Linked DNA regions of Homo sapiens: region 2 is linked to region 1. Evidence: fine-mapped QTL for protein levels in blood plasma. Region 1 holds a variant in brackets. A gene starts in the other region. All regions are shown on their forward strands.

Region 1 (5,364 bases):
GGAGAAGCAGAGGTTGCACAACGTCGTGAATCCAGCAAATGCCGCCGAAGTATATGCTTCAAGATGGCTGTTAAGTGAATTTCACTCCATAAAAGGTGTGTTTTAGAGGGTTATGCCCATGAGCGAGCCTACCTATACATGTGCAGTGTCACATTACTGAGACGATTCTGTTTAGAGCAAAGCCACCTACCTCCCACGTCCCTTTCCAGCCTGTCTTCTTAGCCACCTGCCTCCCACATCCTTCTCCAGCTTTGTCTCCTTGCATGCAGCCCTCTCAGGGCTTTTGAGGCCTGGAGGCCAAGGGTGCTGGGAGGTCCCACTTTGTACCCTCTCCCGAGAGCTTTGAGGGGTACCTGCCGCCTCTAGCTGTGCCTTCTCTGTGCCCTTCAACTCTGGAGTGAGGTCAGATCTTGGCTCTGGGGCCACCACCAGCTGTTTCAGGCTTGCAAAGTTCTGTCCGACAAAATACAGCTCCGCTTCCCTGTGGGGGGAAGCATTGGCCCCAACAGGCCTTCTTCACCAACGGGGACAGCAGTCCCTTGAGTGGAGCCCTGGACTCAGGGAGCTCTGGTCAGTGAAACTCTCAGCTAGGGGCTAAGGGTATGGGGACCTTCATATGTGGGACAGGCTCCTCGCTGGGGACGCTGCCACCAGGCCTGTGAGGCAGCCAGCCAAGTTCCACTTGCTGCAGCTGGGGCTGCTCTGGACGGCCAATCCAGACACCTCCCCCCTCTCCACCCTCTTTCCATCCTCAGGTTTGCATTTCTTAGGTCTGGCACTTCAACTGCAAAGTACAAGTCCTGGGCTATCTCCTCCTGCTCTGCTGAAGGCCACATCGATGCTTGGAAGGTAGGGTCAGCCCAGTCCCTTGCTCCACACACCCAACTACACTGATGGAGCGACCGTCTACACAGGGATCCTACGGTGGGGAGTGAGCCTTGCTGGCCTGATGCATGGCAGTGGTTCCTGCTCCAATAAGACCAAGAATAATTAATAACTGTGACTAAGTTAGAAGCTTTGGCTGCATCTGAATTCACCAGCGTTTCCAGCTCCTGAGGCCATGTGCGGTGTCACCTCACTCCTGGCAGACAGACTCCCACTCGGAGGATGATTTTTCATAGCCAGGGTCGCTCTGTGGACCTTGGATGGACCAACGTGCTTTCCATGTCCAACTTTGTCAAGATCCGGGGAAGATTCTCCAGCAAGTCTCTTGGAAACATGTGCATGTGGCCCCAGGCGACGTGAGGGGTGCAGTCTGCCTGCGTTATGCAATGCTCAGGCCAGTTTTCCCTGAGAGAGGAATGCTGCCGATCCTCTGCGGTAACCCACAAAACTCCACGGAGATGCTTGGAAGGAAAAGCATCGCGTCCTCCAGATGTTTTGAAATGTTCAAGTATTTAAAAGGGAAATGGAATTTCTGTTTATCCTTTTAAGTGACAATTATTCATTGCGTCTTCCTGGCCACAGCTCATTCAGCACTACTGCAGATCCGGCCAGACCCCCAGGAGCCGCGGCCCCTGCACAGCCAAGGCCAAGAAGCTCCCATCGTGGAGGGGGGCGCATTCCGGACCTGTGAGGCCCGGGGTTCGTTTTTATGCCTCCTTAAAGGGATGAGCCAGAGAAGAAAGTCTTCGCAAAGCCTTTGCCCCAGGAGGGGCGGGGCTGCGCAGGGCGCCTGTGGAGGCCGTGGCCGGGCAGGTGGGGAGGCTCACACACAGGCCAGAGGCTTCCCTGGAAACTGACGCCCTAGGGCAGGTCCAGCTCCTGGATGGTCGCAGGTGAAGAAACGCCAGGCCCAAGGGTCCTGGGAGAGAGAGGGGAACAGCGCCCAGGAAGAGGTGCAGGTTCCCAGGGACTGCAAGGGCCGCCGCCACCCTCCCACACCCCACCCTCGCTGCATCACCAGTCAGCCCAGGGCAGGCTGCTGACCCTCCCTTGGCCTCAGTTTCCTCATCTGTAAAATGGAAAAAGAAGCATGTCCACCTCACCAGTGGTCACAGTCACAGGTGCTGACATGGAGAAGGATTGATGCGTCCTCCTGAGTGCTGCCTTGTCATGCTATAAACCAGGAGGCCTGGCTCTCTGCCTCCCGGGAAGGTCTGTTTCTAATCCTGTGCTGGGTCTGCGTGGCTCCATGGCCTCAGAGGCTGACACCGAGTGTGGTGTCCCTGGGTCACCGTGCTCCTTGGTTTGGTCCAGCAGGAGAAAGGGCAGCCTGCCAAGGAGAAGGCTGTGAGCTTGGCAGGGGAGAACTTAGGCGCTGTGCCTTTGGGAGGCTGGGATTTAGATCAC[A/G]GCTGGGAAGCTAAGTCCTGACTGCACTGGCCGGAACCAATGGGCTCCAGTAGCCGGATGCTCTGCCAAGTCAGGAGGTAATAACCGCCACGGCCTGGGAGAGAAGCTGGCACAGCCGTGGGCCCCTGCCCTGCGGTCTGGCCTCGCAGGTCCCCAGGCCGTGTACAGACACTGTGCGGCAGGGAAGCAGAGGCAGCCATGGGGAGCAACCCTGTTTCTCAGTGCTACATGCCTACTCTCCCTGAGCTGATGTCTGGAAGACAGTAAAGGAGACCTGAGGCAGTGCTGCCCCTCCTTCCGTCTGCCACCTCCTCAGGGCTGGCCCAGGCCCTGCAGAGCAGGTGGTGGTGGCTGCTGGTGGTAAAGCCCGTCCATCCAGAGCCTCGCTCTGCTCCCAAACCACCCACCTCCCGCTGCACATGTGGCAGCTTCAGGAGCCTGGCGGGGCTAAGAGGAGATGACAGACCCCAGCAAGGACAGGCTCAGCTTCTTGGGGACCGAGTCATTGCCTGTTGCTTCTCCTGGGGGCCTCGACTGTCCGAGTGTGTTCAGGCACACGGTGCCCTGTCTGTTTCCCAGGCACTTGGGCCAAGGCTGGACAGGGAGGTGCCATGTGGGACGAAAGCCCAGGCTGTGCAGTGCTGGTCACCGGGAGTGACCATGGGTGAAGTCGCGCTGTGAGTGACTGCCTGTTATCACTGACCACGCAGGGCCATCCTGGGTGACCCGCTGTGCCACAAGCAACTGGTTCACATTGGAGCCCCCCTCTGGAGCCCTGGGCAACCCGCTGCCAGTGGGCCTTTCTCCTGAGGCCCCTGGAGTCCCGGAGCATCCCGTGAGTTCATCTGCCATACCTGTGATTGCCATGTGGGCCCAGCGCCCTCCAATGGAAAAGCTGCATTCAGTTCTGCCCGAGGATCCCAGGCCTACGACACTGTCCTCAGGCTGCCAGGGAGCAGGAGGCTGTGGGGATCTGCGTTCTTGCCAGGCCTGGGAGCAGCAGCCAAAAAGTGGACTTACGTGGACAAAATGTTGGGCCAGGGAGGAGCCCTCGGCTCTGGACGGATGTCTCTGGTGCTTTTATGCCACGTGCATTTCTGCAGATTTGATGCCCGGCAGCCAGCACTGGGCTGTGGCCATGGTGGTGAGGCAGCCTTGGGTCTGCACGAGGCTCGGAGGCCTCCAGGAACCTCCCAGGAATGTGACTGTGCCTGGAGAGAAGCGCCATCTGCACGGCGCAGTCCAGATGCTTCTCTCCTACAAGCCCATCATCAAACACACAGCTGCCCAGACTTCAGCAGGATTTGTGCACAAGAAACGCAAAGGCACAGTCCATCGGGTGAGGCAGAGGTGGAAGGAGCACCGGGGTGGGAGTGGAGGAGCACCGAGGTGGGGGCGCAGGAGCACCGAGGCGGGGGCGCAGGAGCACCGAGGCGGGGGCGCAGGAGCACCGAGGCGGGGGCGCGGGAGCACTGAGGCTGAGCTGTCTCTAGTGATCTCTCAAGCCTCAGTGCAGTGGCCACAGGGCAAGGTGCCTCCTGGTGTGTCCTCGCCTCCAAATCAGGCTGCTCCACTTCCCAGGTCAGAGTCCTGGGGGGTTGTGTTGACCCTGAGCCCCCACGAGCATCCAATCCAGCAGAGCTGGAAGGACCCAAGAACCTGCATTCCTCATGGCTCCCATCATGCTTCCGGTCCAGGAGCCACCATCCAGACCACACTCCCATTCATCCCCTGGCCACGGAAGCTGAAGCCTTGGTTTCCCCACCTGTAAAGTGGGAGTATCAACATCACCCACATCAAAGGGCCTGGATTAGATGCGGTGATGCCCGTGGACTTTAGCAGCCCCGGTCCTCCAGGGGCCCTCCCAGGGAGCTGAGGCCCGGGTGGTCCTGGCGGCCGCTCCTTCTCCAGGCCGAAGACAGGAAGGTCTCTTGGGCTGACCTCAGGCAAGAGGCGGGGTGGGTCACGGCCTCCAGGGCCAGGCTGGGGCCTCCACAGAAAGCCCGTGGGTGGCGAGAGGGAGCCGGCTGGGGTGACTGAGGGTCGCTGGGTAGATGAGGGAGGGACCCGGGGTTCTTGTGTTCACGTGTGTATTTGCCCCGTGTTTCTGCTGACATGCCACGTGTGCAACAAACAGGCTTGGCGAGCCATCCCCACCACCCAGGCCGAGACGCCAGACGTGACTGGCACCCCAGGGTTCCCTCCCGGCCCCCAGAGGTAACCCCAATGCTGGTTTACCACAGATGACTCATTCTGCCTGTTTTAGGGTTTTGAGTAAATGAAACCCAACAGCGTGCAGTCTTTTTGCCTGGCTTCCCTTTAACCACGTCTGAGAGGCTCACTTTGCGGTTGCTTCTGTGGCTCCTGGACAGTTTCCCTTGTGCGGACACAACTCAGTGAGAGCACCCCTTCTTCCATTTGTAGACTTTCCAAATAGTCCAGGCGAGAGAGGCTCAGGTCTTGAGTTCAGGGAGGGGCAATGCACAAGCAGACGCCAAGTGGAAGGGAGTACACCCCTCCCTTGGCGGGGAGGCCCTCGGGCTGGTGGGGATGAGCGCCCCTCAGACGGCACCTGCGGGTGACAGGGTGTGACATTCTGCTGTTTCTCGGAAGTAACTCGCAAGCAGCATGGGGGTTCCTAGTGTGTTTCACAGACTCTCACCAAATGTTAGGGTTCACTCCTTGTCCTACAGCTTAAATACACCAAAAGTGAGAAAATTACGAGATAACATTTCCCTCAGAGACCCATATTCTGTGTTAAAGAATTCTTCCTTCTACCTAAATCCATCTCTTTACGGTCAGATGTCATTGGTTGTGGTATTTTGTCCATTTTCAGCTTTGTTTAGATTTTTTTGACATGCAATTAAATGCCCATATTTAAGACGTACGGTTTGATAAGTTTTGACATTCTGCTGCACCCACAGAGCCATGACCACAATCGAGACCATGGACATCCCCTCCCCCAGGCTGGCCCCTGCCCCGTCCCTCCACCCTCCTGCTCCTCTGATGACACTGACCTTTCTGTCACTGTAGATTAATTCATTTCTGTCCTGGGTAACACAGCGTGTATAC
Region 2 (5,364 bases), not on the chromosome of region 1:
CAAAGTGTTGCCAAGGAAAGGGACAGCATGTTGGGAGTGAACAATATGAGGACCTAGATTGGGCTGGGGGGGCCAGGCAGTGATGCGATGGAGAAGGGATGATAGAGTTGGGGACAAAGTGCTGCAGGAGGTTGCTCCAAGTCCTCTGAGGGGGCTCTTTGGGTGAGAAAGCGAGAGAAGCCTGGGGAGGCGAGGGGAGGGTCACAGAAACATAAGGAGTTTAGGGTTCTGCTGAAAGGTTTGGGGCAGAGGTGGGAAAGGGTTTGGTTTGAGATTGGGAAGAAGCCTTCTGACTGTTGAGTGGGAGACAGGTTGGAAGGAGCAACAGAAGCCAGCAGCCCATGGCCGGGCACAGTGACCCACGCCTGTAATCCCAGCCCTTTGGGAGGCCGAGGCGGGCAGATCACGAGTTCAGGAGTTCCAGACCAGCCTGGCCAACATGGTGAAACCCCGTCTCTACCAAAAATACAAAAATTAACCTGGCATGGTGGTGCACACCTGTAATCCCAGCAACTCAGGAAGCTGAGGTGGGAGGATCACTTGAACCCAGGAGATGGAGGTTGCAGTGAGCCGAGATCGAGCCATTGCACTCCAGCCTGGGCAACAAAGCAAGACTGGGTCTCAAAAAAAAAAAAAAAAAAAAAGACACAGCCCAGGGAGACAACGGTGAAGGGCCCTAAGTGGCCAGTGACAAGGAGCTGGGAGCTTGCCCTGAGGGCAGCAGGAGGCCATGGGCAAGCAGAGAAGGGACAGGGTAGGATTTGACTTTCAGAAACAGTCCTCTGGTTGCTAAATGGGAGAAAGGAGTGACAGTAGAGGCAGGAGAAGGCAGGATCAGACGGGGGTGCTGGGAAGGGGCAGGTAGAAGAGACATCAGGAGGCCAAACAGATAGGACTTTATGATGCACCGTAGGTATACCAGTACCCAAACACAGGTGGCCAAGAGCAGAGGGATAGACGCCCAGCCTCCTCCTCACAGACATCCAGGCATGCAGAGCCCTCCACGTGCCAAACACACAGGGCCGAGGAATGGAAGTGCAGCAGAGCCGATACGCAGGCAGCAGATCTGCAATAACCAGGACACACAGTCCCACCAGAAGGAGAGAGCAGTGGAATGATCAGGGCTCACTGCAGCCTCGATCTCTTGGACTCAAGCGTTCCTCTCACTCCAGCCTCCCTAGTAGCTGGGACCACAGGCACACGCCATGATACCTGGTTAAGTTTTAATTTTTAAACTTCTTGTAGAGATGGGGGTCTCAGTGCATTGACCAGTCTGGTCTCGAACTCCTGGGCTCAAGCGATCCTCCCACCTTGGCCTCCCAAAGTGCTGGGATTACAGGAGTGAGTTACTGTGCCCGGCCAACAACTATTCTTATTCCCATTTTACAGATGGACAAACTGAGGCTCAGGAGGCCAGTCACTTGCCTGTAGCCCACAGTTAGTGGTAGCACTGGGATTCCAACTTGGGTCCCCTTCATGTCGCCTGTATTTGGTGTCCCATTTAGGCGTCCATGCAGGTTTTGGCGTGTCTGAAGATCTGTGTCTCCCCAAGTAAGTGTCCCCCATGGATGCCCACCCAGCCGTGTCCTCCTGTCTCTGAGGTTTCTCCAGGAATCGAGCTCCTGGCCTGGCTTGTCTGAGTGTGTCTGTGGGCCAGTAGCATGCCCCTGCCCGTCTGGGTCCCTCTGCGTGTCTCTGCTTGTCCTAGCCTGTGTGTGTCAGTGACGTCTAAGAGTGTGTGTGCGTGCGTGCGTGCGTGCGTGTGTGTGTGTGTGTGTGTGTCCTTGTCCGAGGAGCCGAGAGAGTGAGGGGGAATGAAGGGCCAAGGAGGCCTGGCTGGGGCTGGGCTGGGGGTGGAGGCGGGGAGAGGGGCGTCACGGCCTGAGCTGAGAGGGGAGTGGAGTTCTGGAGGAATGTTTACCAGACACAGAGCCCAGAGGGACAGCGCCCAGAGCCCGGATAGAGAGACACGGCCTCACTGGCTCAGGACAGGGGGCACAGCCACCAGGGTCCCCTTCCCCCTCCTCAGCTCCCTCCCTGGCCCCTTTAAGAAAGAGCTGATCCTCTCCTCTCTTGAGTTAACCCCTGATTGTCCAGGTGGCCCCTGGGCTCTGGCCCTGGTGGGCGGAGGCAAAGGGGGAGCCAGGGGCGGAGAAAGGGTTGCCCAAGTCTGGGAGTGAGGGAAGGAGGCAGGGGTGCTGAGAAGGCGGCTGCTGGGCAGAGCCGGTGGCAAGGGCCTCCCCTGCCGCTGTGCCAGGCAGGCAGTGCCAAATCCGGGGAGCCTGGAGCTGGGGGGAGGGCCGGGGACAGCCCGGCCCTGCCCCCTCCCCCGCTGGGAGCCCAACAACTTCTGAGGAAAGTTTGGCACCCATGGCGTGGCGGTGCCCCAGGATGGGCAGGGTCCCGCTGGCCTGGTGCTTGGCGCTGTGCGGCTGGGCGTGCATGGCCCCCAGGGGTGAGTGATGGGGGCTCCTTGGGGCAGGGATCCCCTCGGAGGGGCTGGGGCAGGGGTAGGAGGTGGGGGATGATGGCAGGTGTGGGGGGCCTGGGCTGGCTTAGGGAGTTTCCTTGGGACCACAGAAAAGGGACTTCAAGGGAGGGAGACACAGACTCAGAGACACCAAGTGCGGCAGAGGGAGAGAAAGACTGAGAGAGGAACTGAAGGGCAGGGGGGACAGAAGAGAGGACCCGGAGAGACAGACAGACAAGGAGAAGCTGAGGGCAGGGGTGGGGGCTGGACCTGAGAAGGGGGCCATGGGGAGAGGGGCTGAGCTGAGGGTCGCCAGGAAGGAAGAAATCTTTCCGAAGGGGCACCGAGTCAGGCAGTGGGATGAGGAGGGCTCTGGAGCCCTGGGGGAAAACGCTTCTCCCTGCCAACACCACCCCCCTGACCCGCCACTTGTCCCTACCCCACCAGTCCACTCCATCTCTGGGGAGGAGGCTCTCACTTTGTCTCTCTGTCTCTGCCTCCAGCTCTGCTATCTCTGTGGGTCTCTGTTTCTCTCTCTTTCACAGTCTCTGCCTTTATCTCTCCCTGCTCTCTGAGTCTCTCTCTCTCTTCTCAGCCTCCCTCTGTGACTGTATCCCCCCTCCGCCCCCACCTTTTCTTCTCTCTTGAGGGCTGTTTCTTCATTTTTTCTGTCTTGCCTTGTATCTGTGCTCCTCTCTGTCTCATCTCCCCTGCCTTTCTCTGGCTTCTCCCTCCGCCACCACCCTTATCTCCCCCCACCACCACCCTTATCTCTCTCCCCCAACCCCTGATTCTTCCCCTCCATCCACCAGCACCAGCGCGACCTGTTAAGTCTCTAGAGACCTAAGAGAGGACGGAGGGGGCAGGGGCTGGCCCTGCCAGGCAGTGCAGGGCGTGGGAGGCTGCCAGATCCCGAGCCTCCTTCCCGACGGGATGGACGCTAGATCCCAGTCCCTTGGGAGGGCTCCCGTCCTCCTCTCAGAGCCTCCGCCCTCCACCCCACTCTGAGGTCACTCTGCAACTATGTCGGCCTAAGGGCCTGGCGGGGTCCTGGCCGCCGGTGGGCAGGCAAGGACAGGGTGGAACTGAGGGCCGGAAGGAGCTGGGGGGTTCCTAAGCTAACTCTTCCCATCTCCCCTCCAGGCACGCAGGCTGAAGAAAGTCCCTTCGTGGGCAACCCAGGGAATATCACAGGTGCCCGGGGACTCACGGGCACCCTTCGGTGTCAGCTCCAGGTTCAGGGAGAGCCCCCCGAGGTACATTGGCTTCGGGATGGACAGATCCTGGAGCTCGCGGACAGCACCCAGACCCAGGTGCCCCTGGGTGAGGATGAACAGGATGACTGGATAGTGGTCAGCCAGCTCAGGTGTGTGGCCACATCCCCGAATCCCACTCCCACCTCCGTCACACAGAGGGCAGAAAGCCCACCTGGGTGGGAACCCCAGTTTGACCACTTGTCAGCCGTGCGGCTTTGAGCATGTGATGGAACCTCTAGGTTTCGTTTTCCTCTTCTGCAAAATGAGTTAATAATAGGACATACTTCGTGGTTGTCATGAGCTTCCAGACTGGACACCCTCTTTCCGTTCTGACAGACCCCCTCCCAGTGTCCAGCTCTGACCCTGAACCTCTCTGTCTCTCCTCTTGCCCTGTCAGAATCACCTCCCTGCAGCTTTCCGACACGGGACAGTACCAGTGTTTGGTGTTTCTGGGACATCAGACCTTCGTGTCCCAGCCTGGCTATGTTGGGCTGGAGGGTGAGCTCTGGGGTCAGGGGTCCTGAGGGGTCAGAGGACATGTGGCGCTCATAGGTTGTGGGAAGTCAGGAATCCTGAGGGGTCAAGGTCAAAGGGTGCTGGAGGATTCAGGATGAACCTAGCGTCATACAGCCTAAGAATGTCAGAGTTTTGGGTGGTCAAGAAGCTGGGAGTCCATATAAGTTATGGTGCCAAGGCTGGGGGATTATATGTTCTGGGTGAAAAGACTTCTTGGGGGTAGTTGGATGTCCTAGGCATCAGACACCATCAGGTCACAGGAGGCCATTCTGGTCTTCAGATAAGGCGTCAGAGGCACGCAACGTACCCCTGTCCCCACGACCCCAGCGGTCTCTTTTTTCTCATCCATAGAATGAGATGAGGATGAGCTGTCAGACATTCTGGAAGAGAGACATGAGGAGCTCAGCTATCGTGGGGGGTCTGACATGGGAGGAATCAGATATTGGGGTCACGTGTGTGTTGGGTATGGCTCAGGTGCCCTCGGGGATCAGATAAGGCAAGTCAATGACCCTGCAGGGTGGGTTTGCTGCCCAAAGCCTACAGCATCCTAGTGGTGAGTCAGGCATCTTGGGGCCTCAGAGGGACCCCAGCCTCTACCACTGCCCACCCCGCTAGGCTTGCCTTACTTCCTGGAGGAGCCCGAAGACAGGACTGTGGCCGCCAACACCCCCTTCAACCTGAGCTGCCAAGCTCAGGGACCCCCAGAGCCCGTGGACCTACTCTGGCTCCAGGATGCTGTCCCCCTGGCCACGGCTCCAGGTCACGGCCCCCAGCGCAGCCTGCATGTTCCAGGTGAGTCCGGGGATGTGGGTCAGCTCCGAATAGGGGGCCGGGCAGGGCTGAAGTCAGGAGCAAGGGAACATTGCTACCTCTGCGTGAGTGTCTGACTGTCCTTCTGTCCCTCACTGTCTGTCTCTCTCGTTTCTCCCTCTGAGTCTGTCTCTGCCTCTCTGTCTCTACCTATCTTATTTCTCTCCGTATGCCTTTTTCTGTCTCTTTCTGTCTCTTGGTGTGTGTGTCTTTCTGTCTCTCTTTGTATGTGTCTCTCTCTCTGTCTCTCTGCTTCTCTCTCCCTCCATTCACCCCGGCCTCTCTCTGAATAGAATTCTTTGTCCTGGGTTT

Direction of the effects. Positions count from the first base shown, and alleles are read on the strand shown. Strength reflects both the effect of a copy and how common the allele is.
As copies of A replace G in region 1, the plasma level of the protein whose gene starts at base 2,201 in region 2 goes up (moderate association).

Evidence for each region. PIP is the posterior inclusion probability: the model's chance that the variant is causal. The UK Biobank Pharma Proteomics Project read protein levels with antibody pairs (Olink). The fine-mapping took linkage between variants from a reference panel, not from the people measured, so its PIPs are less certain.
Region 2: it holds the start of AXL, and the variant in region 1 is fine-mapped to the plasma level of the AXL protein (UK Biobank, PIP 0.96).

The regions. Positions count from the first base shown.
Region 1 is chr13:113,926,675-113,932,038 of GRCh38, forward strand. It overlaps SWINGN (SWI/SNF complex interacting GAS6 enhancer non-coding RNA), which reads right to left and starts at 2,317. Exons shown (of 1, transcript NR_047495.1): 1 at 1-2,317. It also overlaps a transcript of C13orf46 not described here. RefSeq lists an enhancer at 4,263-4,332. The variant A/G (reference allele first, on the strand shown) is at 2,293.
Region 2 is chr19:41,217,023-41,222,386 of GRCh38, forward strand. AXL (AXL receptor tyrosine kinase) reads left to right here and starts at 2,201. Exons shown (of 20, transcript NM_021913.5): 1 at 2,201-2,455; 2 at 3,614-3,836; 3 at 4,124-4,224; 4 at 4,858-5,034. The coding sequence starts at 2,371. RefSeq lists enhancers at 1,342-2,166, 4,417-5,354 and a silencer at 1,775-1,914.